Linked DNA regions of Homo sapiens. The protein of the gene in region 2 purifies or fractionates together with the protein of the main gene of each other region. This does not show direct contact. Each region holds a gene or a part of one and is shown on either strand. Other genes may lie near its edges.

Region 1 (3,500 bases), about 49 Mb from region 2:
GAATGATTTCCGCAATCTGAGCTTCCCAGTGGGCCACTGACTCCTTCTTGGCTGCCAGATCCTGCAGCTCATCCTCCAGCTGTCTATTTTGAGCTGTGAGTTTATCCACAAAGGAACAGAGCTGAAATGAAACAATTTCACCACAGAACTTGTTAATCGGGCATCCTTTAAGTATGCTGGATTTAACACTGGAAGTTCTTTTGAAGACTCTGAAAGTTTTCTTTAATCGTCATGAGATTTTTCCAAACTAAGTTCATGATATGGATTTTTTTCACTGTATCTAGCTTAAGTCACATTTCAATTCAAATCTAAACCTAAACTGATGGAGCTGGAGCTAGTGACTTCAGGCAATTGGCATCTTTTCGCTGAATACAAACATCCTATTTAAAAGACCAAACACATGACTCCATTCAAAAATTAAAACAGTCACGTGTAGTGAAACAGCAAGAACACGGTCTGAGAAACGTGTCCTTGCACACACAGCGTGAATGCACTCACGCAAGCCTAGACGGTGCGGCTGCCGCACACCAGGCCCTGTGGTACAGCCTGTCAATTCCAGGCCCCAAGCCTGCATACCATGTTGCTGTGCGGGACGCTGCCGGCGGCTGTAGCACAATGCTAAGTATCTGTGTATCTCAACACAGAAGAGGTAGAGTAAAGTACAGTATTATGATCGTACGGGACGCCTGTTGTACACACAGTCTATCATTGATGGAAGCATCGTTATATGGCACATTACTGCACTGTAAAAAGACACCAAACTTCGGCCGGCGCAGTGGCTCATGCCTGTAATCCCAGCACTTTGGGAGGCTGAGGTGGGTGGATCATGAGGTCAGGAGATTGAGACCATCCTGGCTAACACGGTGAAAACCCGTCTCTACTAAAAATACAAAAACTTAGCCAGGCGTGGTGGCAGACGCCTGTAGTCCCAGCCACTTGGGAGGCTGAGGTGGGAGAATGGCATGAACCTGGGAGGCAGAGGTTGCAGTGAGCCAAGATCGCGTCACTGCACTCCAGCCTGAGCGACAGAGCGAGACTCCATCTCAAAAAAAAAAAACCAAACTTCCAAGACTCAAGAATGACGACATTCTACTCCCCCATAAATATATATACCTACTATGTACCCACACAAATTAAAAATAATTTTTTTTTAAATTACAACTTCCACACAAAGTGCTAACTCAGGTACTTTGAATTAATTACCTTTTCATTTTCAGCAGTTAGCTTCTTGTTTTCATCAAACAGCATCGCTCTTTCTCGTTCGTATTTATCTTTTATTGTACCTACTGCCTCCTCCATCTCGTTATGCCTGCCAAGGTGAGCGAGAAACAGTTTTAAAAGCTCGTAACTTCACTGATATTCGTATCTATGGCGTGGGTATCAGCTTGCATCTTCTGAACTGAGAAGCTCATGAAAACCTACCGTTCTCGCTTTGACTTTTCTAACTTATCTTTTAACATCAAGATTTCTTTCTGCAGGGCCAGCTGGTGGCTTTCTGAATCATGCACCTCCTTCTTCACATTTTTCACTTCTAGCACATGGGAGGCCTCACGTCTGACCAATTCCTCTTCATAAAATAAGACTTTCTTCTCCAGCTCGGATTTGATTTTGGAAATCTCTTGCTGGTGCTCTAAGGTGGCACCCGCTCCCCGGCCTCCTTGCTTCACCTGAAGACAAAGGTTAACATAAATTGACAAACCTCTGTGTCCTCAAGGGTCACACTGTCCTTTCAACCCCTTTCATCCCAAGCAAGTGCAGACACCTTCCCAAGGACTGTGTGTGCCTGGTCTACACCAGATGACGTAGCTGACCTGGCTAACGTGATCCAGGTTCTAGGGGGTCACAGCAGGAGACGGCCTTGCAGGGGGATGTGCCCAGGTCTGCCTGGGACCCCCGAAGCTCTGCCCCACACCCTGTTCATTCATGCTTGCAGCATTCTTCTGAGGGCTGACTCTGTGCTGGGCCCCCTCCTTGTGACTGGGGTGACACTGAGGTCTCTGCTCTCTTGGGGCTGGCGGGAACTGACAGCAAACCAGTAAAGGGGCAGAGGGGCCGTGCACCCCAGCCAGGTTGTAGGGAGTGGAGGGCGTGCCAGGATGGCTGGGGCGGCTTCTGTAAGGTGCTGGCCTATTAAGTGAGGTGTCAGGCTAGGGGCAAAGAACAAGGGCACAGGCTGGAGTGAGGTGGGACGTGTTGGCAGTGTTTGCAGCATGCAGAGAGGCCAGTGTGTCTGGTGTGGCGGGGCAAGGAGGGGCAGGAGAGGCACTGCTGGGCTGGAGCAGGCAGGAGGGTAGCTGCTGGACAGCTGCGGAGCCACGGAGGCCCTGCCGCACAGGAATGTGATCCGGCTTTGGTCTGCCAAGCTCACTCTGCCTGCTGTGCAGAGAGGAGACTCAAGGGCTGAGAAAGGGGCAGGAGCCTCGGGCACCACATGCCGAGGTCCAGCCAAGCCCGCTGCCAGGGAGGAACAGCATCTCAGGCCCACGTCCCAGAGGAAGAGTTGCCAGATCACTGAGGCGAAGGGAGAGGGCAGACCCATCGCACGCGGCTCACACATGAGGAGATCCAGGCCACGCCATACTGCCAAGGAGATCCGCCTCCGGCCCCTTGCCCACTTGGCCACTGTGGCCTTCCCCACTCCCGCCCTCCGCGGCCTCCCTGCTACCCTCCAGCCCCACCAGTGGGCCCCGACTGATGGCCAGCCTGTCTCTTCCCCAGTCAGCAGCAGGCTACGGGCTTTAAGGAGCTTTTCCAAAACTCAACTGCACCGAATTTAGAATACCACGATGTGAAGAAGGCTATGAATTGATGGGGCTGGAGTAGGAAATGAGCCAATTAGATATTCGTTTCCTAGGACTTACTGTGAATTGCCTGAAACTTTTATATAACAAAGGAAAAACATGAACTTGGCCTTTAAAAATGAAAGCAGTCACGAAGGCAGGGGTCACACCCCCCACCTCTCCACATGTGGGTCTTGTCTGAACAGCCTCGGGTGACACTCGGCCCGGACCACACATTACACAAGGTGACTTCCATGTGGTGGCGTCAGCAAAGATAAGCATCCCTCTCAGTTAAGGGCAGAGACCCCCGCCCAGCACTACCTTGAGGGCCTCCAGCTCGCTTTCCATTTGCTTGCAGAAGTTCTCGCTGTGCTCACGAAGCTTGCGCTCCTTGGAGGCCTCAGCAACAGCATCATCAAGCTGAGCTTCCAGCTACAAAAGGAAGATCCAGTTTCTATTAACAAAAAGCGAGCCCTGCTTCACCAGTTACAGCAGCACCCACGGGACCTCCACAAGAACAAGACCTCGAAGGAGCTCTGCGCGTGTTCACCCTTCATCAAATCTTATCACAAATTAAAGTTTGAGAAATACACTTCTGGGTTCAACTGGGATGGTTGGTTACTAATAAAACAAGGTTCAATTCTAGCTTAAATTGACACTTAAATTTCAAGAAAGGATACATTTCTTGAAATTTAAATTTCACTGATTCGTGAAAACCAG
Region 2 (3,500 bases):
TGGCCACCACCAGAAGCTAGGAAGAGGCATGGAAGGACTCTCCTCAGTCTCAGAGGGCATGGCTCTGCTCTCATCTTAATTTTGGACTTACATCCTCTAGAAATGGGAAAGAAGAAATTTCTGTTGTTTTCAGCTACCTGGTTTGTGGTACTTTGTTACAATAGCCCCAAGAAACTACAAAATACAGTAGGCAAGCAGTGTTGTTCACTAATTTTATAAAGGGCTGCAAATGTCCAGGCAGAACCAGTGAGACAGCACTGGTAGACAACAGGTCAGTGAAAAAGGTTTACCAGATCCTGTTGCTGAAGGATAAGCTCTATAGCTGTCTAGAAGTGTGGGTCCTCAAAGATGGCAGAATGGATAGAAAATAAACTAGTCACCGTAGGACACCTTCGAAAGCTCTAGGACAATGAAAAATGCCAGTTGTCAGATGCTTTATTTTATGGGAGACTGAAACATTCAGCATATGCAAAGTCACCCATCTACTGTCTATCCTGTTTGTACTCTGCACAAACATCAGAGCATTTGGGTTGCCAGAACCAGCTACAGTAGAATTTGTTAAGCTTCACTTCACTAAACAGAGCTAGTTTGATTTCTGGAAACTTTTCAGTAGAGGCTGCTTTCAAAAATTTATTTGAAAAAAAAAAAAAAGATCTCAAAATGGTTTGAAAAATAGGGCCCTATGTTGGAAAATATTTTTCCCCAGCTACATTTAACTATCTAATACTATTTTACCTATATGTATCAGAAACTTTCACATCATCAACTGGATCTATTTGAAATTTAGCTTTTATAATTAGTACTGGTTAAGTGACTATGCTTTTTCCATAGAGGAAGATGGGAAACAATAGGATGTAGAATGGCTTCTAGTTCTCTACTGCATATTCTGCAAACTATATTTCTCTGTATGTCAGAGTTCAGTTTGGCCACAAACAGGTGTGTGTCCCCAAAGACCCTCGTACTAGTTGGTTTGCCTTCAGAACTGACACTGTTGGCATGAGGCCCCTGGGCTATAGGTTTAAGAGGAGAAGTTGGCTGGGCTTGTCCTATGACTAGGTGCCCTGAGAACCCCATGGCTATTTGATATAATTTCTATACTTCTAGCTCAAAGCAATGTCCTTAAGGAACTTGGGGCTTTTGAGGTCGTAAACTATTTAATACCCTACCTTATTCGAGAAAGGATTAAGCAGGTTATTAGAATATGAAATATACATTATGCACGGCAAAGTCCAGTTTCCTCCCCATGGCTGGCTCTCTGTTGCTTTGTGTGTTTCACTTCCGGCAGAGCATCTCTTGTTTTTTATCCACATCGCCCCTTTGAATCTTTGCCATGCTACTATCTACTGCCCATTGCCACTCTCTCTGGCCTTCCTCCAAGCTGCTTTTCTTTCCTCCTCATTTTGTCCCCTTTCCTTAACCCATCTTCTTTTGTTTTAAACTTTCACACCAGCAGCTTGTGTTTTTATAGCCACTGACACACAATGAGAGGCCCTCTTTCAATCTGTTAGCAGTCATATCATCAAATGTAATTTTCAAGTCATATTTTTAGGATTGCTTATTGCTTAGAGGTAACTTTTTTGGTAGCTAATTTTGAAAAAATCGACTTTCTTTATTTTTTTTTTTCTAGATGGGGTCTCCCTGTCACCCAGGCTGGAGTGCAGTACTGTCACCTTGGCTCACTGCAACCTCTGTCTCCCAGGCTCAAGCAGTTCCCCCACCTCATCCTCCTGAGTAGCTGGGACTACAGGCACGTACCACCATGCCTGGCATGTTCTTTTGTATACTTTTTGCGGAGATGGGGTTTTGCCATGTTGCCCAGGCTGGTCTTGAACTCCTGAGCTCAAGTGAGCCACCCACCACAGTCTCCCAAAATGCTGGGATTACAGGCGCGAGCCACTGCACCTGGCCAAAAAATTGATTTTCTTGCTATTGAAAGCAACTAAGCAATTGAAAAGCTAATAAGTGAGGCAGTGATGGTGATGAGGGGAAAGGAGGGTCCCAAAATTGCAACTAAAGGTCTAAGACTAAAGGAAAGAAATAAAAAAGAAAAGCTTGTAACCTTGTTCTAACAATTTCCAAATCTACTCATTTATTGTCCCTACTCTTGAAAAGTAATAACAGCACGTATTTGACTACTTACCCTGTACCAGACATTGTGCCAGTGCTTTCCTAGTGCATTATTACCTTTTAATCCTTACAACAAACTATGAAGTAGGTGATAACTGAATAGGGCTACCATAATTCCAGAAATCATTTTGACTGAGACATTTCTCACATAGTGTATGGAGAAAAGAACGTACTGTATTAAGGTTTTTCGGTAATTTTTAAGGCAGGTTGTAAGCTCTTCCATTATTTCACAGCAGCTGGCTATGTCAGGAGTCCCTCCATCTGCGATTGGATGATGATGGGTGATAATTCCACATTGCTGGTAGAGATCCAGAAGGTTTGGGACTCTATATTTTGACAGTTCCCCTCTGGTGCAGAAAACAAATATGTCTTGTATACCACAGCTCTTTAGTTCTTCTGCCAATAGACCAGGATACACAGACACACACACATAGAAAACATCACACATTTAAATACCATCAAGAGGGAGAATATGAAATTAAATTTCTTAAGCCAAACTAATACCAAATGACAATCTATAAATCTGAAGTGCCTATTGATATGTCTGAATCAAAAGGGGTCTAGAATTAAACCTCATATTACAAGTCAAAATGCCTTTTACTGAATTTCAAAATAAGTCAATTGCTGTTCTTGCAAAAAATTTTTTTTTGCAATGAATACTGCTTTAAAATAACCCCCCCTCTTTTTTTTTTTTTTTTTTTTTGAGATGGAGTCTTGCTCTGTCACCAGGCCGGAGTGCAATGGCACGATCTCAGCTCACTGCAACCTCTGCCTCCCAGGTTCAAGTGATTCTCCTGCCTCAGCCTCTCAAGTAGCTGGGATTACAAGCATGTGTCACCACGCCCAGCTAATTTTGTATTTTTAGTAGAGACGGGGTTTCACCATGTTTGTCAGGCTGGTCTTGAACTCCCGACCTCAGTTGATCTGCCCGCCTCCGCCTCCCAAAGTGCTGGGATTACAGGCATGAGCCACCATGCCTGGCATAAAATAACTCTTAAAACACTTAAAATTGAGTAGCAAATATGGTTGATTTTGTGAGAAAAAGAAAAAAAGTGCTATCAATTAAGGTATGATAGATCTATGTTCAATTAAGGATGATAGCACTTTTTTTCTTTTTCTCACAAAATCAACCATGTCTGCTACTTCATCACTTAGCTGTTTGCTTGACTCTGAGTATTGTATATAAAATCTCCAGCATGGCCATGGTGTCAGAGGTGCTAGTATTCTCCCTCATATCTGCACTGTAACACATCCTTGTGTATTTAATTTTATAGACTAGGTCGCCAGTAAATAAAACATTACCTGTATTAAACTTCTGTGACCTAGCTATTCTCATTATAATGATATGAATACTATAGGCATTCTATACACTA
Region 3 (2,618 bases), on a different chromosome or scaffold from region 2:
ACATTTTTAAACTTTTTGACTCTCTTAATTAACACCTAGCTTAAAGCACGAACACATTGTATAGCTGAACACAAATATTTTTTTCTTTACATCATTATTCTGTAGGCTTTTTTCTGTTTTAAATTTTTTTAAAAAACTTTTTTTGTTAAAAATTAAAACTAACACTAAAAAGTTTTTGTTAAACCAAGACAAATATCGCCTTCTACCTCCATATGTTGTCTCCCTCTAAGGGCTTCAGGGACAATAAAATGTATGGAGCTGACAGCTCCACATTATTGTGTGTGATTTTGGTGTCATATCAAAAAAATCATTGCCAATACCAGTGTGATGGAATTTTGATCATTTTAAAATGAAGTAGTTTGTCTTATTGAGTTTTAAGAATGCTTTATCTATTCTTCATTGTGAAAAATAGAATATTGGGAAATCGCTGTTTGGTTTGGTTTCTAGGATGACCATCTGTATGTAAGAAGTGAAATGAAGCACAGATGAGAAAAGTCTTAGTATTTAATCAACATTTATTTATTGTCAATTTTAATACAATCCGGTTGTTTGAATCCAAAGACTTGAAACAAATGTGTTACAGTCAAATTAAGGAACTATGTAGCAGTGACAGATACTCTTCCTTTTCATCTGGGCATGGATGATATTTTTTCAGGTGGAAACGTTATTGAACTACAGTAGTAGGTGGAAAGCATTGTATTTCCATGGAATAACTCCTCAATATATTTCCCAATATTGAGCAGCCTCTTAGAAATAGGGAGCAAGATCTTTCTGCTGAAAACAAGCTAAAGCCCACATTTGAATGTTTTTTTTTTTCCTGAAATGATAAATCCCTATTCTTTATGAAATAATGCTCTTGCTCACTGGCTTGGGAAAAGACCCTGATGCTACTTTTTTATGCCACTAATTAACTTACTGATTAAATATATACCCAAGAAAAAGGACTTGATGGTTTTGATAAGTAAAGACACTACCGCTGCTGCATCTTTGCTTTCAGAGCCTTCACCTTCTGCCACAATACCAAAAATTGGGACACACCAAACTTGGGGCACACTAAAAATTAGGGTACACTAATTGCTGTAAAACAAAGCTTTGTATCTAGGACTGGTAATGCATTTGTAATATTTTGCTTCTAAGAAATGTAAGGTTAGCTTTGGCACCATCTATAAATGAATGATGAGCTCTCAAAAAGACAACTCCAACTAAACCCAAAGCTCTTTAAAAGCTTTTCATTATTCCTCAAAGTTTAACCCTCATTCTAACAAGTTATTCCACTCAGTATTTTCTAACAAAGTAGCACAAATGCCTAACAGTCTTTGGAAGGAACCCCATAACAAGATATATGCTACAGTTTTAGGCTCTAAAGAAAGAGACAGAAATGCATTGATTCACTTTTAGAACGAATTTCATGATGGATTGCTTGTCTTTCATGATGAATTCATAGATGACTTTCCTATTTCTTAAATTGCTACTTGAGTAAATTGCATTTATGTTTATTATTCACTGATAAAAGTAGCACCTCTGCTCTTGGACATATTCATAGGGTGAAGTGCTACTAGGAAAACTGAGAAAATATGAGCCAGAACTTCCCCCATCATGGTTACTTCCTCCTTTGCAATAAGAATACCCATCTTGCCCTGAGCCACTTCCATGCTGACTATAACCAGAGGACTGTCCTGAGCCAGACCCATGTTGGCCGTAGCTGGAAGACTGCCCTGAACCAGACCCGTGTCGGCCGTGGCTAAGAGACTGGCCAGATCCAGCCCCATGTCGGCCATAGCCAGAAGACTGACTGGAGCCAGAGCCACGGTGGCCATAGCTGGAAGACTGGCCTGTGCTAGATCCCTCCTGGTCAAAGGTTGATGACTGTCCTGATGTAGAACCATGCTGTCCTTGGCTACAGAAGTGCCCTGAGCCACTACCATGCTGACTGTAAGCAGAGGAATGTCCTGAGCCAGACTCATGTTGACCAAAGACAGAAGAGTGACCCAAGCGAGACTCATATGGGCCACGGCTGGAAGAACGACCTGAGCCAGACCCATGTTGGCCGTGGCTGGAGGAGTGCCCCAAACCGGACCCATGTCGGCCGCGGCTAGGGGACTGGCCAGATCCAGACCCTTGTCGGCCGTGGCCCGAAGACTGACGGGAGCCAGACCCATGCTGACCATAGTGGGAAGACGAACCTGAGCTAGATCCGTGTCGTTCACCCCTAGATGACTGTCCTGATCTAGAGCCGTGTTGTCCGTAGCCAGAGGAGTGACCTGAGCCAGACCCATGCTGACTGTAACTAGAGGACTGCCCTGAGCTAGACTCGTGGTGACCAAAGCCAGAAGACTCGCCTAAGCCAGACCCATGTTGGCCACTGCTGGAAGACCGACCGGAGCCAGACCCATGTCGGCCGTAGCTGGGAGACTGCCTTGACCCAGACCCACGCTGGCCGTGGCCTGGAGACTGGCCAGATCCAGAGCCCTGTCGGCCATAGCCAGAAGACTGACTTGAGCCAGAGCCATGCTGACCGTGGCTGGAAGACTGACCTGAGCTAGCTCCATGTTGGCCACAGCTCGATGACTGTCCTGATGTAGAACCATGTTGCCCATGGGTAGAGGAATGACCTGAGC
Region 4 (3,500 bases), on a different chromosome or scaffold from region 2:
GTGGGAAAATGTCATTCAAGACTCCCATACAAAATGTCTATTGCTGCCTATATTTTGCTATGGGAAAGTAGCCACAGATAATGTTTTTTTTTTCCTCATTAGTATTTTAAGATTTTCCATCCTAGTGGAAAGATATGATTTGATTCATCCTATTTACTTTGTATATTAAAGTACAGTAGAACCTGCCACTTTTTTTGGAAATGCAGCATAAGGATAAAGATAAATTTCATATCAGTTCAGCAAGTTCTATTTAGCAGTGTGTTGAAGTTGAGACTGAATAAAATATTTGGTTTGGTTTTCTGTTCAAAATTTTACCTTGATAAGGACAATATTTTTCTACATATATCAGTAGGCAGTAATGATTACTTCAAAGCTTCCAAAGCCAGATACTACACCTGCATGTTCCAACATAGTTGCTGAATTTATTCCCAAGATGCATGTAATGTATACTTTGTATTATTGAGAATGAATAAAGAAAAGTCATAATGATGCCTTCCAGCTGTGCAAGTTAATATTAAAATATAATTTGTTTGCATATTTCACCTAATAGGTCTTCTTCATTGCTATACTGTTTACTTAAGTGAACAATGGAAATGTTGCTGTTTATCTTAAGGATTTGTAACATGCCTAAGATCTTACAGTACAGACTTCTATAATTAATGAAACATTTTTCTTTTTCCTTTCCAGGATCAGCTCAGCTACTATTTAATAAAACAAAATCTGTAGAATTCACGTTTTGTAATGACACTGTCGTCATTCCATGCTTTGTTACTAATATGGAGGCACAAAACACTACTGAAGTATACGTAAAGTGGAAATTTAAAGGAAGAGATATTTACACCTTTGATGGAGCTCTAAACAAGTCCACTGTCCCCACTGACTTTAGTAGTGCAAAAATTGAAGTCTCACAATTACTAAAAGGAGATGCCTCTTTGAAGATGGATAAGAGTGATGCTGTCTCACACACAGGAAACTACACTTGTGAAGTAACAGAATTAACCAGAGAAGGTGAAACGATCATCGAGCTAAAATATCGTGTTGGTAAGACTTCTATGAAAGCTTCTTTTTTTATTTGTCCTGGTGCAACCTGATCCTCTTTCGAGAGGAGGCCAAATGGGGATAGGTACTCCTTTGAATCAAAAAGCAGGCTGTTATTAATAAATGTTGATGTAATGTTTAGCAAGTTTAAGATTGTGATTTCTATCCTATTTGTTAATCTACTCTTCATGGTAAAACACATTTACTATTTAATTTGTATTACTTGTTAATTTGTATATTGTGTGGTTCTCAAACTTTTGGTCTAAGGACCATTTTATTTGGCTGATTGGTCCTGGGGTAATGTACTCTTCATTTCTGTTTGCTGCCATCCAAGTGCTTTCTTTCCTGTGACTAATTTTCAAGTCTCTTTCCAATTATTCAGCCTTCTGTTTTTTGTGTTTTTTTTTTTTTTTTTTTTTTTTTTTTAACCTTACACTTTGACCAAGGGATGACAAGTCCCAGCCATGCTCCCTCTGGAGAGAATAGAGGAGAGTCAGGAGATTAAATCACGTTATCATGGATGATTTCTTCAGATTTTCTGTGCTTAGCCTTACTTTGGTCTTCTTTTTGTTGGCCAAAATATGAGAGAACTAGAGATTCAAATTCATTTATTCAAATTCAGACTTGATGATAGCACCATGATTCTGCCCTTTTTATCACAAACTTGGGTTGCTGAGGTGTAGAAGGTAGTAAAATTAGCTGAAGTAAATAGTCTCCTCTCCTTGCTGTTTCCTGCTGTGCTAGCTGAGTTCTTCAACCCCATATGAGTATGTTCTTTCTGTTTTGAAATCTCTATTTAGAATTACCTGTCATATTACCGATCATGGCTTAACCACATTTTGAGAACCTTAACTCTAGATAGGTTCAGTTCTGTTCAGTTGGATCAACTATTTGCCTAGCTTTTATAAAATAATCTACTACCAGATTAGGAATGGGGTGTTTGGTTTGATGAAATGTTTGCACATTACTTAGGATTGAGAATCAGGAGGTCTGAGTTACAGCCCCTGTTCAGCAACTTACTATTCACCTGTGTGATCTTGAGAAGGTGCTTAACCGAGTCCAAGTTACCTCATGTCCGAAATGGAGATGACAATAGATACTTGCTTTTATGTATTCTACAGTCTAATGAGCATAAACCAAAGTGTGTTGTAAATGTTAGTTGTTTTCCTGGGATGTTTATTTTATGAAGTAAGGTATCAAGTTGTTGAAGTTAGCCTAGAGCATTGTGAGAGGGATTTGTGTGCAGTGAGGAATGGGCAAGGGATGGCTCCGAGTAGGCAAGGAGAATTTGAAAGGTCTTTCTGCTCAGAAATCTCTCTTACATTGTAGCTTTTACTATTGATATTAATTTGGGCAAAGGAGCTTTTTTTGTTGTTGTTAAGTATACCTTTAATGAAGGGTGTAATCAGTCAGTCATATCCACTGCAACTAACTGGTATTAGATCATCTAATACCTAGTTGAAATTTTTCTGAGGTAATGTACAATTTTGTGGAAATGAAAGAATAAGATATGGGGGAACAGTAACTTTTGGGGGGTAATGCAGGTCACTGAGAGGTAAACTGGAAAACTCAAAATATGAGATTTGAAAGGCCAGAAGATGAAATGAAGATGGAAGAGAAAGGAATGCCAGGATCTGAGATAAAAACAGTTTATTATTTTGCGTGTGATTGAAAGACTGTTTTATCTTTGTTTGCAAAATACCCTATAAAAATAAAAACTAGACTTATTTTGGGAGCCATTAAAAGGAGAAAGTATTGTTTTATTATAGAGAATGTAGAAAATTCTACCAGAGGTTTGAGACATTTGGCTTTGCATCCATTTTAATTTTTTGAAATAATTATTGATTTACAGGACGATTCAAAGATAGAGAGCTTCCATGTGCCCTTCACCCAGTCCCCCCAATGGTTTCCTCTTATGTGACACAATATGAAAATCAGGAAGTTCACAATGGTGCAGTGTGTGTTAATGGTTCGCTCTCATTTTATCACGTGTTTATTTGCGTAACTACCTACACAATCAGGACATAGACCTATCCATCATAACAAACATCTCCCTCATGCTTATTCTTACTAGTCATACCGCCACCTCCCACTGTCCCTAACCTGGCAAGCACCAATTTGTCCTCCATATCTATAATTTTGTCATTTCAACAATGCTATATAAATGGAATGATACAAGATGTGACCTTTTGAGAAGGGCTTTTTCACTAAGCACAATGCCCTTGAGATCTATCCAAGTTTTTGCATCTATCAATAGTTCTTTTTTCCTTACTTTTTTTTTTGCTGAGTAGTAGTCCATAGTATGAATATATCACAGTTTGTTTAACCACTTACCTATAGTAGGACATTTTGGTTGTTTCCAAGTTTGGGCTGTTACAAATGAAACTGCTCTGAACAATTGTGTACAGGTTCTTGTGTAGACACAGTTTTCATTTCTCTGGGATAAATGCTCAGAAGTATGG
Region 5 (3,500 bases), on a different chromosome or scaffold from region 2:
GGGACAAGGGCTTTCAGACATCCTCTTGGTTAATTCTTAATGCTGAGGTGATGGCAGCATCATTCATATTTACAGATAAGTCAATTAAGTCTGAAGAGATTAAGTAATTTGCCTGTAATTTAACAGTCAGGGCAGAGCCAAGATTTGAATCCAAGTCTGTTAAACTTGCAAGCTCACATAGTGACCACTTAACACCTTGCCTCTCTGTTCATCATCATGCTCTATTTCTCCTTTCCCCCTTTTCCCTTAGCCAGCCACAATATAGGACTGAATTATATGTTATTAGTTTTATTTTTAATATACCTCTATATTTCCTGGGGCTTTGAAATTATTATTTTGAGGCTGTATGCAGTGGCTCACACCTGTAACCCCAGCACTTTGGGAGGCCGAGGCAGGAGGATCACTGAAGGCCAGGAGTTCAAGACTAGCCTGGGCAACAAAGTGAGACCCTGTCTCTACAAAAAAATTATTTTGAGAATAAATAAATAGAATGCTTACTACCTCTTTAAAAAAGAAAAACTAATTTAGGTTTCTTTTACTTGTACACCAAGTCCATTATTTTACCTATATATAGAATGTTTAAGGTTAAGGATGTAAAGAATTCAATTCAACGAGTATTTGACCACCTATTATAGCCAAGCACTAACTTAACCTAGTATTAAAATCAGTACATGATTCATTTCTACTTAAGAAATGTATTTAAATTCTGACACTCTTGTTTTGTTTAAGCCGTAAAGCAAACTAGATTTCTGTAGTTGAAAAGAGGTGCTTCTGAAACGTGTCCAAAACAAATTTACTGGCAGATGAAGGTATTCAGACGGATGAGTGAAGGGTTCCCCTCAAAGTGTTGTCTTGTAAATTACTGTCTGGGACTAGCTAACGGTTTTTCTGTTCTTTGTCAGGTCCAATAAAACACTGGCTGATTCTCTGGATAATGCGAACGACCCCCACGATCCCATTGTGAACAGGCTACTGCGCTCCATGGCCACGCAGGCCATGTCGAATGCTCTGTACTTCTCCACCGGATCCTGTGCGGAGGAGGAGTTCCATCATTACGGTGAATCATACCATATTCCTATGTGTGGCTGTAACTTTGCGCTAGTTATTTTAAAATAGTTTTTGTTTATTTTGATCTTTTGCTTTCTTTTTGAAGGTCTTGCATTAGATAAATATACCCACTTTACTTCTCCAATAAGAAGATATTCAGATATTGTAGTACACCGCTTGTTAATGGCAGCCATTTCAAAAGATAAGAAAATGGAAATTAAGGGAAATCTGTTCAGCAACAAAGATCTTGAGGAATTATGCAGACATATCAACAACAGAAACCAAGTAAGAGGGAATTTCAAAATTCTCTTACCTGTCATCTCTTGCTAAGAAAATATCAGCTTTATTGTGTAGTACCGTGAAGTATCATATATTCTAGCAAATTAAATTCTAGAATTATTCTAACCAGTGCTTTCAGAACATTTGTAGATGTTCTCAGGTAACTTGTGGATTTGGGAGATTTGACGGTAGATTATCAGATTTTTTTTTTTCCGAAAGGTGGAAATGTAAAGATTCAAGCAACGCATAAAGATATGATGACAGAGGCCAGACGTGGTGGCTCACTTGAGGGCGGATCACTTGAGGTCAGGAATTTGAGACCAGCCTGGCCAATATGGTGAAACCCCATCTCTACAAAAAATACAAAAATTAGCCGGGTGTGATGGCACGCGCCTGTAGTCCCAGTTACTTGGGAGGCTGAGGCAGGAGAATCTCTTGAACCCAGGAGGTGGAGATTGCAGTGGGCCGAGATCACACCACTGCACTCTAGCCTGGGTGACAAAATTGAGACTGTGTCTCAAAAAAAAAAAAAGATATGAAGACAGAAACATCACCTGTTATCTTACCACCCAGAGCTAACAATTAATGATTCTAGACACTGCTAACATTTTTATTTATAAAAATATCGGCCAGATGCGGTGGCTTGCACCTGTATTCCCAGTACTTTGGGAGGCTGAGGCAGGTGGATCACGAGGTCAGGAGATCGAGACCATCCGGGCTAACACAGTGAAACCCCATCTCTACTAAAAATACAAAAAATTAGCATGGTGGCAGGCGCCTGTAGTCCCAGCTACTCAGGAGGCTGAGGCAGGAGAATGGTGTGAACCCGGGAGGCGGAGCTTGCAGTGAGCTGAGATTGCACCACTGCACTCTGGCCTGGGTGACAGAGCGAAACTCCGTCTAAAAAAAAAAAATCACACCGTGCCTGCTGTTTGAATCTGCTTTTTTCATGTAACCCAACTGTTATTGATAGCACACCATGTTATATCATTGTTTTGAAGCTGCTTTCTATTCTATTTCATATTACTAGTTGCTACAAGATTGCACAGCATAGAACTAGACTATTGGGTAACGCAGGAAATTGGAAACTACCTAAATGTTTAATGTAATTTTCTATATCCAATGGTATAGTTGTCTGCTGTGCAATGTTGTAGCACTAGCCATGTGGACTACCTAAATTTAATTAAAATTAGAAGTAGAAATTTGTCTCAGTAGAAATTTGGCCAGTGTCTCAGTCACACTGGCCACATTGTATAGCTCAGTGGCCACTTGTGGTTAGTGGCTACATATTAGGCAACACAGATAGAGAGCATTTCTATCATTGCAGAAAGTTCTGTTGGGCAGCACTGTTCTAAGCAATCAAATTTATAACCATCCTTATGGATACACTTATACAGACATTTCAGATGATTTCCTGGAAAAATTCCTAGAAATGGAATTGCTGAGCCAAAAGGTGTGCATGCACAAATGAAACTGATAGGTCAGGTGCAGTGGCTCACGACTGTAATCCTAGCACTTTTCGAGGTCGAGGCCGGTGGATCACCTGAGTTCAGGAGTTCCAGAGCAGCCTGGCCAACATGGTGAAACCCCGTTACTACTAAAAATACAAAAATTAGCCAGGCATGGTGGTGCATGCCTGTAATCCCAGCTAATCGGGCGGCTGAGGCAGGAGAATCACTTGAACCCGGGAGGCAGAGGTTGCAGGGAGCCAAGATCGCGCCATTGCACTCCAGCCTAGGCGATAGAGTGAGACTCCATCTCAAAAAGAAGACAAAGAAACTTTAATACATATTACTAAATTGTCTTCCTTATCAGTAGTGCTAATTTAGACTTCCACCAATAGGGTTTTCATTGGACAGGCTTGAAAAGAAAGAAAGGCTGGCCGGGCGCGGTGGCTCATGCCTGTAATCCCAGCACTTTGGGAGGCCGAGGCAGGCGGATCACGAGGTCAGGAGATCAAGACCATCCTGGCTAACACAGTGAAACCCCATTTCTACTAAAAATACAAAAAATTACCCGGGCGTGATGGCAGGCGCCTGTAGTCCCAGCTACTCCAGAGGCTGAGGCAGGAGAATGACGTGAACCCAGGAGGTAGAGCTTGCAGTGAGCCGAGATTGCACCACTGTACTCCAGCCTGGGTGACAGAGTGAGACTCCATATCTCAAAAAAAAAAA
Region 6 (3,976 bases), on a different chromosome or scaffold from region 2:
CTGGCACCAGGCTGTTAAGCTGTGGATGGGCAACCGCACAGTGCATTGGATGTGAGTATTTCAGTACGTGGAGCTGGCCAGTGGAGCCGGCCGAGGTCAGGCAGAGCGTACAGCAGCGCGCGTGTCCGTGGGGAGGGAGGGTCCTCCCGCCTCCCCGCCTCCCCGCCAGGCCAGTCCTGTTGCGCCTCCTCCTGCCCCACTCTGACTTTCCAGCGCCCAGGCCGGGGCGCCGCCAGGGCGTCTCTGAGGGTCGCGCCCCGATACCTTCCTCCACCCCACGGCTTCTTCCCCCCAAGGGCGGGGCTGGGGGCCCAGGAGCACCACAGCCCCCATGGGCCCGGGAAATGGCAGCTTCGTCATGGCCCAGCCCGCCACGCTCACCTTTTCCCACCACCTGGAGGATCCACTCTCCGTCCGTCCTTCCCGACCTCAGGCTGCAGAGGAAACCTGGGGGCGGGGGTCGAGGAAGCCGAGCCCCGAGGCTCCCAGCGCCGCCCCAGGAGGAATCTTGCGGGCCACTAGAAGCTGTGCGCGCGGCCGGGCTCGGCCCCCACAACGGCCCGAGCGGCCGGGCCTGCCGCGAGCCTCCGCGTCCAGGTGGGGTCTCCGCGCCCCCATTCCACCCCTCCCCGCCATCGGCGCTCCCCGCAACTGCGGGGTTTCCACCCGCCCCGGCGCTCGCGCCCACTCACGGTCTCCCTCGCCCCCCCGGGAGATGCTCCCGGCGTTCTATCCCGCCCCGCCCTGGCGCGCCCCGCAAACGATGTGACCCCGGCCCCCTGCGGTCTCCCCTCCTCCGGACGCTGCCCCTGCCCCACCTGTGGCGCTCCCGTCATCTCTAGAGCCCCCAACCAGAGTCCTCCAGCCCACCCGCGAGGCTCGCGCACCTGCGATGCGGCCCCACTAGCAGGGACCCGCCCACCTGTGGCGCTACCCCTGCCTCTGCCGCCTCCCGCACCGCTAGCGCGGCCCCCACCTACGACGACCCCCGCGTAGATGCTCCTGCCCACACCCGCCCCAGCCCCGGCCCCTGCCCCTAGCCGCGCCCGCGCCCCCTCCCCCGCAGCCCCTCCCATACGCTCGGGCCCCGCCCGTCACCGCCCATTGGCGCTGGGGCCGGGCGGGGGCGCGGGCGGGGCGGCGGTTCCGAGTCAGGCGCGCGCGGGCAGGGTCCCCATTGCCTGCTGCGCACCCGGACGTGCGGCTCCCCTCGGCCTCCTCGCCATGGACGCGGACGACTCCCGGGCCCCCAAGGGCTCCTTGCGGAAGTTCCTGGAGCACCTCTCCGGGGCCGGCAAGGCCATCGGCGTGCTGACCAGCGGCGGGGATGCTCAAGGTGCGCGCCCCCCTCCCGGCGGCGAGGGAGGGACGGACGGACGGAGCTGGGGAGAACCGGGCGAAGGCGATGGGGTGACCGGAGAGAAGAGGGGGGAAGCGATGGGGGGGACCCGGGGAAAGGTGGCGAAGCGATGGGGAGAACCGGGGAGAAGAGCGGGGAAGCGATGGGGAGAACCGGGAAGAAGCCCGCGCCCGGAAGCGGCAGGGGTACCTGCGGGGCGGCATGAGCCGGCGAGGCAGCCCCGGGGTCCTTGCCCGGTGGGGCGGGGGAGGAAGGGACATGGCGGTAGGAACCTCCATCCGGAAGATCAGTGAGTTTTCCACCTTCGGTTTTGTTTTAAATGGAACCTGGCAGAGGGAGTCGCCTGAAGCGCCCTCGGGGGTCGTTCTGCCTCTGAGCTGTAGGACGGGGCCGGGCGTCCCCTCCGAAGCGTGGGTACAGCGCGATCACTTCCTAAGTGCCCCCCCGCCCCCCAACTCCGCCGCACGCCACCCCCTAGAATGTCGAGGAAGAAACGGCTGGGTCCCCGCGCGCCTCCTGTCGCCTCGTGCCCTGCGCGGCGTGGGCGGGGTCCTGGCTGCTGCAATGCGGGACGCGGCGGGGGTGCGCGGGGTTCCCGCCTGGCGTCTCCAGGGCGGTCCGGCAGCCCCTCGCGTTTCCGCTGGGAGATTTTTAAAAAGGGTTTCCTGCGCTCGCATGTGCTGTCGCCTTCCGGCTCGTGACAAAAACGAAAACCAAAATGGGTCCCAGGCCCTCCCCGCCAGCCTCCGCAGACGGGAAGGATCAGGAAGCGGGGACTCCGGGATGTCAGCGGCGCCGCGGCGCGGGCTCCGGGCTTCCCTGCCCTGCAATGTGGAAGCTGCTCTCTAGGAGGGGCCCGAGGCTGGGCCCACGGACGCGGGCGCGCCGGGAGGATATTTAACATTGAAGAGCGGAAGGTGGCGGAGACTCGGCGCGCCCCAGGCCCCGGGTGCACGTGGGGGCGCCGGTGCCCGGATGATGGAGTGTCCCGATCCGTGCAATCCCTGGCGGGTAGATCGGCGCTTCCCAGGCGAACGCAACCTGGGAGCCTTAGCGATCGCGCAGGCTGGAGACGCGGCGCGCCCCGAGCTGGGTTTTGATTTTTGTTTTCCCGGTTCCTCCTGCCGCAGATGCGTGGAAAGGCCCGGATGGCGGATTTCCTCCCGTTTCGGGGCCGCGCACTGCACAGGGTTGGAGCGGGGATGCACCCCCTGCCCACTGCGCGGGTGACCTTCCCTTCGCCCTTGAGCGCGCGGGGCGGGCGCGGGTGCCGCAGGTTGAGGCGCTGTGGGCGCCGCCCCGCCCGCCACGAGCGCCTACGTGATGCCCGGCCCGTCGTCTCCACGAGCCCCGGCCCCGACACCCGTGCGCCGCGCGCTCCCCAGGCCCGCAGCGCAGCCTCCCCAGGCCCAGCGCCCCCCGCGGGAGACCCGGGTGGCAGCGCCAGGCCCCGCCCCGCAGCCCGCCCTGCAGCGCCCCCGGGAAGTGCTCTGGCGTTAGCATTCCAGTAAAAGGACCCCAGCATCAACGTTCTTCCTGCAGGGCTGGGTTCTCAGAGAAAGAAAACGTGATGCAGCAGAGGATGGGATTGAAGAAACAGGAGAGTGAAGTGGAAATAGCCTGGCCCGCGTGACTTAAACCGGCCCGGAGATGTGCGGGTACGAATGGAGCCGCCTTGGGGTCGGGATAGGACCCAGAGTGGCTTCTCAGTCAAAGGCCTTCAGAAGCAGAGGGAGCACCTTGAGTGACCTTACCTGGGCCGCGAAAGACAAGAAACCTTTGGCACAGGAAGAGGAACTGATCTCTGGAAGCCACCAGGGCGGGTGGAAAGTCAGGGTTTCAAGGTTATTTTGGAATTTAGGTGCTGTGGGCCTTGTACGGTGGCTCATGCTTGTCATCCCAGTGCTTTGGGAGGCCGAGGCAGGAGGCTCGCTTGAGCCGAGGAGTTCCAGAGCATCCTGGGCAACATAGTGAGACTCTGTGTCTACAAAAAAAAAGAAAGAAAAAAAATTAAGATACTGCATGTATTGGAAAATATTTATGGGTCATTCCTTTGAGCTCCATGTCCAAAAGCTTGCTAAAATGCGCGGGAGTTTGTGTACAGGCATGTGAGATTAGGATACATTGGCAGAATCGCGGTGTTCTCTGTTACCCTGGTTTTGCCACCTGGGAGGAGTTAGACATATTGAAGGTTAGTAAGTCCACGCCTCTTCTTTTCTGGGGAAAATGATACTTTGGAAACCAATATTATGTGGGGAACGCGGCTTGGTTGCTGCAACCTCGGGTTAATAGGAGACAGCTGCCCTCAGCTCTGCAGGTGGCATCAAATATGGTGGCCTCGAGCCCACATGGGTCACACCTGGGCTGTCCCTGGGGAAGCCCGCCATGGCGGGTCGCCTGGGCACTCTTTCCCTGGCAGAGCTGAAGTCACAATTTTTTTGTAGACTCTGTAAAGAGCTTTACCCTTCGGTGATACGATCTTGAACCTGTTGGAGCATTTGGACGCATTTCTTTTAAGGAAGTTCACCTCCAGATGTACTCAGAGGGCCTGGTCTTAGCTGCCACAGATTTACAAACCCTTACAGTAAGTAGGTTATTCCTCGAGAATATCTCAGT
Region 7 (4,252 bases), on a different chromosome or scaffold from region 2:
ACTTCAGCTCAGAGTTCGAAGCTGCAGAGAGCTGTGATTATGCCACGGCACTCCAGCCTGGGCGACAGAACGAAACCTTGTCTCTTAAAAAAAATCTATCCTAGCTGGGCGCGGTGGTTCACGCCTGTAATCCCAGCACTTTGGGAGGCAGAGGCGGGTGGATCACCTGAGGTCAGGAGTTCGAGACCACCCTGGCCAACGTGGTGAAACCCTGTCTCTACTAAAAATACAAAAGTTAGCCAGGCATGGTGACGGGCACCTGTAATCCCAGCTACTCGGGAGGCTGAGGCAGGAGAATCGCTTGAACCCAGGAGGCAGAGCTTGCAGTGAGCCGAGATTGCACCACTGCACTCCAGCCTGGGTGACAGAGAGAGACTGTCTCAAAAACAAACAAACAAAAACTATCCTTAGATTAAGACATGGACGTGGTGTACATGATTGCTTTTGCTGCATCTTGCCACCTATTTTCAGCGAGGGCCAGAATAGGAAGCCACTGGATGGAATTCTTTGCTGTGCTTCGCAGCTGTTCAGAACACGTTCTTTACATAATGCCTTTTAAAGAAATGAGGTTCTATGGGAGAAGCCTCTGTGTCAGGACTAATTATGCTTCCCTTGGAGACAAGAACACCAAATCATGGTGATGTTTTCCTTTTCCCACTGGTGTTAGGATGCTTACAGTCAAACTGTTGACCCACATGTAGCAAGAACACCATAGGGAGCCTTCCTGGCACAGCCTTTTTAGAGGCAGCCTTCTTGGTGCTTATCTGTCTTCAATTTCTGTTTCCTGTCCTTATTTAAAAAAACATTATTGCATCCCGTGAATGTATGTGATTGACCTTAAAATCTTTTGCATGAAGGCTTAGTATAATTTAATAAAAACGGCCTTATCTTATTTTCCCAAGTCGACTGGGTAGCGGCTGTGGAGCGCTCTGGGACTCCCGGTGTGCTGCTGGTTAGTAAAGGTTGGCCTTGGCAGCTATGAACATAGGCAGAGCCCCCTCCTCAATCCGCCTCCCACCCCTCCAAGGAAGGGAGGCCGGACTTGGCTTAAACAGGTCGGGCAGCCACTGGAGCCTCCCCTCCCCCGCATCCACAACATACCCATCCCACTCCTCAGCCCTGGCGCGGCCCCGCACCCCGGCCTCCACTCCCTCGAGCCCCCTCTCCGGGTGCAGCCCCGGCGTCCCCTGACCCCGGTGCACACCCCCCGCCCCAGCGCTGCCCCTCGCCGCCGCCACCAGCCCTGGGCGCGGCCTCCGGAGCTCCCCATCACACAGCCGGGCGCGGCCTCACCCCCCCCCGCCCCTCCCGCCGCAGCCTCCAGTTGCCCGCGTCACCTTCCGGGTCCCCGCCTCCCCCGCCGTCCCCACCCCCGCGCCGCCTGGCCCGGGGGGGCGGCGCGGCCCTTCCGGCCGGGGCGGGGCCGGGCCTGGGGCGCTGGGGCGGGCGGGCAAGGCGGGCTCGCCCTGCCGGCGGCGCGGCCATGCTCATCACGCTGTGCTACCTGTACCTGTGGGCGCGCTGGGGTCGCCGGCCGGCTGAGCTCGTGCGCGCCACGGTGCGGCGGCTGCGTGCCTCGCGCTGTTCCTTCACCTTCTGCGGCGCGGCCGCGCAGCCCCCGGGCGCCCGCGTGTGCCTGAGCCGTGGCGGCCGCGTCTTCTGCGTCAGCGACAGCCAGGTGGGCGGGTCGGGCGGGCGGGCGACCCGGGCCCCGCGAGCCGGAAGTGCCCCCGTCCCTGCGCCTCGTCCCCGCCGGGAGCCCGGGAGTTCGGGAGCCCCGGAGTGGCGCCCTCAGTGCGGCCTGTGCGGCCCGGGAGGGGCTGTTGCCCCGGGGCCCAGAGAGAGGCCGGAGGTGCGGGACTCGGACCACGGACCCGGTCGCCTCTTCCCGGCCAGCCGGGCGGTGCTGGACGCGTGACTCTAGGCGCGCACCTGTGAGGACGTGAGCTGTGGATTGACAGCCGGACGCCAGCAGTGCCCACCTGGGGTCGCCCCCAACCTCCTCTCCCACACTTCGAGCCGGCGTTTGGGTGACCGTGAACCAGGAGAGACAGCTGTGGCGGGCCGGGAGCGGTGGCTTATGCCTGTAATCCCTGCACTCTGGGAGGCCTAGGAGGAAGGACAGCTTTGAGCCCAGGAGATGGAGACCAGCCTGGGCAACATAGCTAGACCCCTCTCTACAAAAAACAAAACAAAAAAAACACTTAGGTCGGCGTGGTGGCACGCGCCTGTAGTCCCAGCTACTCTGGAGGGTGAGGCGGGAGGGTCACTTGATCCCGGGAGGTTCACTTGAGCCCCGGAGTTTGAAGCTACAGTGAGCTATGATTGAGCCATTGCACTCCAGTCTGGGTGACAAAGCAAGACCCTGTCTTAAGAAAAAAAAAAAAAAATCCCAAACAAAAAACTCCCACCTGTGTCATCAGCTTTTTGTCAGATGTCCCCAAATTTACAAAAACTGCCCTTTTCCCTCTCCATCTTCTGTCAGTTGGTTGCATCATTCACCAACTTGGGCACCCGACTGATGGTCTTTGCGTCTTTTAAATTTCAGTTGACAGTCAGCCTTTGTTTTTTTTGACCCAGTGCTTAGGATGGTGGTTACGTGTTCAGCCCACTCTGTCACCTACCTTGTGACTTGGGCCAGTCAATTAATCTCTGTAAAAAGTCTGCTGCCTTGCTGTAAAGGGAACAATAGATCTTTCCATTCAGCTGTTTTTGGAAATGGGCTTAGCTTCACAGTGCAGTACTGCACAAAATTTCATGGACATCGGTAGCATTGTTCTCATTAATATTTAAACGTGTTTTGCTTTTAATCTGTTTCTTGTCCCTTTCCTCTGTTTTCTGGAATATTGCCTCACTTTTAGCACTAAAATGACGTTTTCTGCATATGTCACACCGTAAAGCCCCTGTGGGGAATTGAATCTTATCTCAGGTTTGAACATTGCCTGGAGGCTGTGCTTAGATATGGGTTGAAATTGTGCCACTAGCAAATAAAAAATACTCTTTCTTGTTAGTACCATATATGTATTATGTCACACTGAATATGAATGACTGTTTTCTCAGGTCCCCCAAGGTACTAGTTATGCAAATAACTAGTACCACCTCCACATAACTGACACTACCCAGACAAAAGGGGAAGAAGTTCATGCATTACATACAATGTATGGCTTAGAGCGTTGGGAATTAACCTGATTGAGAAAGATAACTCAATAAAATGGCAAAAAATTGAGGGGTGAGCTTTTTGTAGTAGTTTCCAAATTGGATCAATTACATTTAGGATTTAAGTCAGAATAGAAATTTTGGACATATAAAAACATGGAGATGGGAATGTCTGATTTTCTTGGACAGTTTTACTTTTGAACATTTTCATGACTCCGCTGGCCTTCTGTTAACTACACTAACCATAACTAGTGATTTTCAGCCCTTGCCTACCTGTGCAGGCCGGAGTAGGAGTGGCCTGGTGCTTTCATGGATTCTGTAACTCTGCTCTGTCACTCTGCACAGTAAGCTTTGCCTACAGATTTGGTTAGATATTGCTGCGTCATTTCCTAGTTTTCCAGACTAGATGGGATGGCCATGCTCTGCATCCCTGTAGCCTTTAAATCACAGTTCCTATTCTAGTTCGTATCTTTTTCTTATTAGGAAATGAGACTGTTTAGCATAGCAGCTTGACCTGAAATAGTAAATTTAATAGTTGTTGGGTTTAAGCTGTGATGTTGAAGGTCTACAGGTGGAAAGCTTGACCATTTATTTGTGGTTGGCTACTGTTATTTTGAGATTTAAAATATGATCAGGTTGATGATTTGGTGGATATCTCAGTCTGCTTGGGTCTACTTTTGAGGGATACCTCAGTCTACTTGGGCTGAAATAAGGACACACCTGAATCTCATGCCCATATGTTGAGATGGATCTCATTCTGTCACCCAGGCTGGAGTGCAGTGGCGCGATCTCCGCTCACTGCAATCTCCACCTCCCAGGTTCAAGTGATTCTCCTCCTTTGGCGTCCTGAGTAGCTGGGATTACAGGCATGAGCCACCACGCCTGGCTAATTTTTGTATTTTTAGTAGAGACAGGGTTTCACCAAAGTGTTGGCCAGGCTGGTCTCAAACTCCTGACCTCAGGTGATCCGCCCACCTTGGCCTCCCAAAGTGCTGGGATTACAGGTGTGAGCCACCAAGCCTGGCGTGTTCTCATATGTTATACACTTAAAATCAAATGCATGAATACTGAATATGTGTGTTTATAATTGAATGCC

Evidence for each region.
Region 1: the proteins of CDKN3 (region 2) and CDC42BPB purify together in Homo sapiens (affinity purification with western blotting, with the first as the bait; one study listed by BioGRID). This does not show direct contact.
Region 3: the proteins of CDKN3 (region 2) and HRNR purify together in Homo sapiens (affinity purification with mass spectrometry; one large-scale study listed by BioGRID and IntAct). This does not show direct contact.
Region 4: the proteins of CDKN3 (region 2) and CD47 purify together in Homo sapiens (affinity purification with mass spectrometry; one large-scale study listed by BioGRID and IntAct). This does not show direct contact.
Region 5: the proteins of CDKN3 (region 2) and DIS3L purify together in Homo sapiens (affinity purification with mass spectrometry, with the first as the bait; one large-scale study listed by BioGRID). This does not show direct contact.
Region 6: the proteins of CDKN3 (region 2) and PFKP purify together in Homo sapiens (affinity purification with mass spectrometry, with the first as the bait; one large-scale study listed by BioGRID). This does not show direct contact.
Region 7: the proteins of CDKN3 (region 2) and HLCS purify together in Homo sapiens (affinity purification with mass spectrometry; one large-scale study listed by BioGRID and IntAct). This does not show direct contact.

Annotation. Positions count from the first base shown.
Region 1 is NC_000014.9:102,967,050-102,970,549, forward strand, and holds part of CDC42BPB (serine/threonine-protein kinase MRCK beta), read right to left. Parts: intron 3,213-3,500; coding exon 3,102-3,212; intron 1,668-3,101; coding exon 1,423-1,667; intron 1,310-1,422; coding exon 1,204-1,309; intron 122-1,203; coding exon 1-121. UniProt on the Homo sapiens protein: Serine/threonine-protein kinase which is an important downstream effector of CDC42 and plays a role in the regulation of cytoskeleton reorganization and cell migration. Regulates actin cytoskeletal reorganization via phosphorylation of PPP1R12C and MYL9/MLC2.
Region 2 is NC_000014.9:54,410,507-54,414,006, reverse strand, and holds part of CDKN3 (cyclin-dependent kinase inhibitor 3), read right to left. Parts: intron 2,524-3,500; coding exon 2,301-2,523; intron 1-2,300. UniProt on the Homo sapiens protein: May play a role in cell cycle regulation. Dual specificity CC phosphatase active toward substrates containing either phosphotyrosine or phosphoserine residues. Dephosphorylates CDK2 at 'Thr-160' in a cyclin-dependent manner.
Region 3 is NC_000001.11:152,211,576-152,214,193, forward strand, and holds the end of HRNR (hornerin), read right to left. Parts: coding exon 1,501-2,618; 3' UTR 501-1,500; downstream 1-500. UniProt on the Homo sapiens protein: Component of the epidermal cornified cell envelopes.
Region 4 is NC_000003.12:108,077,532-108,081,031, reverse strand, and holds part of CD47 (leukocyte surface antigen CD47 isoform 1 precursor), read left to right. Parts: intron 1-687; coding exon 688-1,041; intron 1,042-3,500. UniProt on the Homo sapiens protein: Adhesive protein that mediates cell-to-cell interactions. Acts as a receptor for thrombospondin THBS1 and as modulator of integrin signaling through the activation of heterotrimeric G proteins.
Region 5 is NC_000015.10:66,328,068-66,331,567, forward strand, and holds part of DIS3L (DIS3-like exonuclease 1), read left to right. Parts: intron 1-902; coding exon 903-1,057; intron 1,058-1,153; coding exon 1,154-1,332; intron 1,333-1,545; coding exon of another isoform or gene 1,546-1,557; exon of another isoform or gene 1,558-3,500. UniProt on the Homo sapiens protein: Catalytic component of the RNA exosome complex which has 3'->5' exoribonuclease activity and participates in a multitude of cellular RNA processing and degradation events.
Region 6 is NC_000010.11:3,066,372-3,070,347, forward strand, and holds the start of PFKP (ATP-dependent 6-phosphofructokinase, platelet type), read left to right. Parts: upstream 1-1,176; 5' UTR 1,177-1,224; coding exon 1,225-1,336; intron 1,337-1,598; exon of another isoform or gene 1,599-1,618; coding exon of another isoform or gene 1,619-1,649; intron 1,650-2,255; exon of another isoform or gene 2,256-2,550; intron 2,551-2,817; exon of another isoform or gene 2,818-3,010; coding exon of another isoform or gene 3,011-3,018; intron 3,019-3,976. Other genes in the region: wiskott-Aldrich syndrome protein family member 1-like, read left to right, coding at 332-769. UniProt on the Homo sapiens protein: Catalyzes the phosphorylation of D-fructose 6-phosphate to fructose 1,6-bisphosphate by ATP, the first committing step of glycolysis.
Region 7 is NC_000021.9:36,963,870-36,968,121, reverse strand, and holds the start of HLCS (biotin--protein ligase), read left to right. Parts: upstream 1-1,452; 5' UTR 1,453-1,483; coding exon 1,484-1,678; intron 1,679-1,729; exon of another isoform or gene 1,730-4,252. UniProt on the Homo sapiens protein: Biotin--protein ligase catalyzing the biotinylation of the 4 biotin-dependent carboxylases acetyl-CoA-carboxylase, pyruvate carboxylase, propionyl-CoA carboxylase, and methylcrotonyl-CoA carboxylase.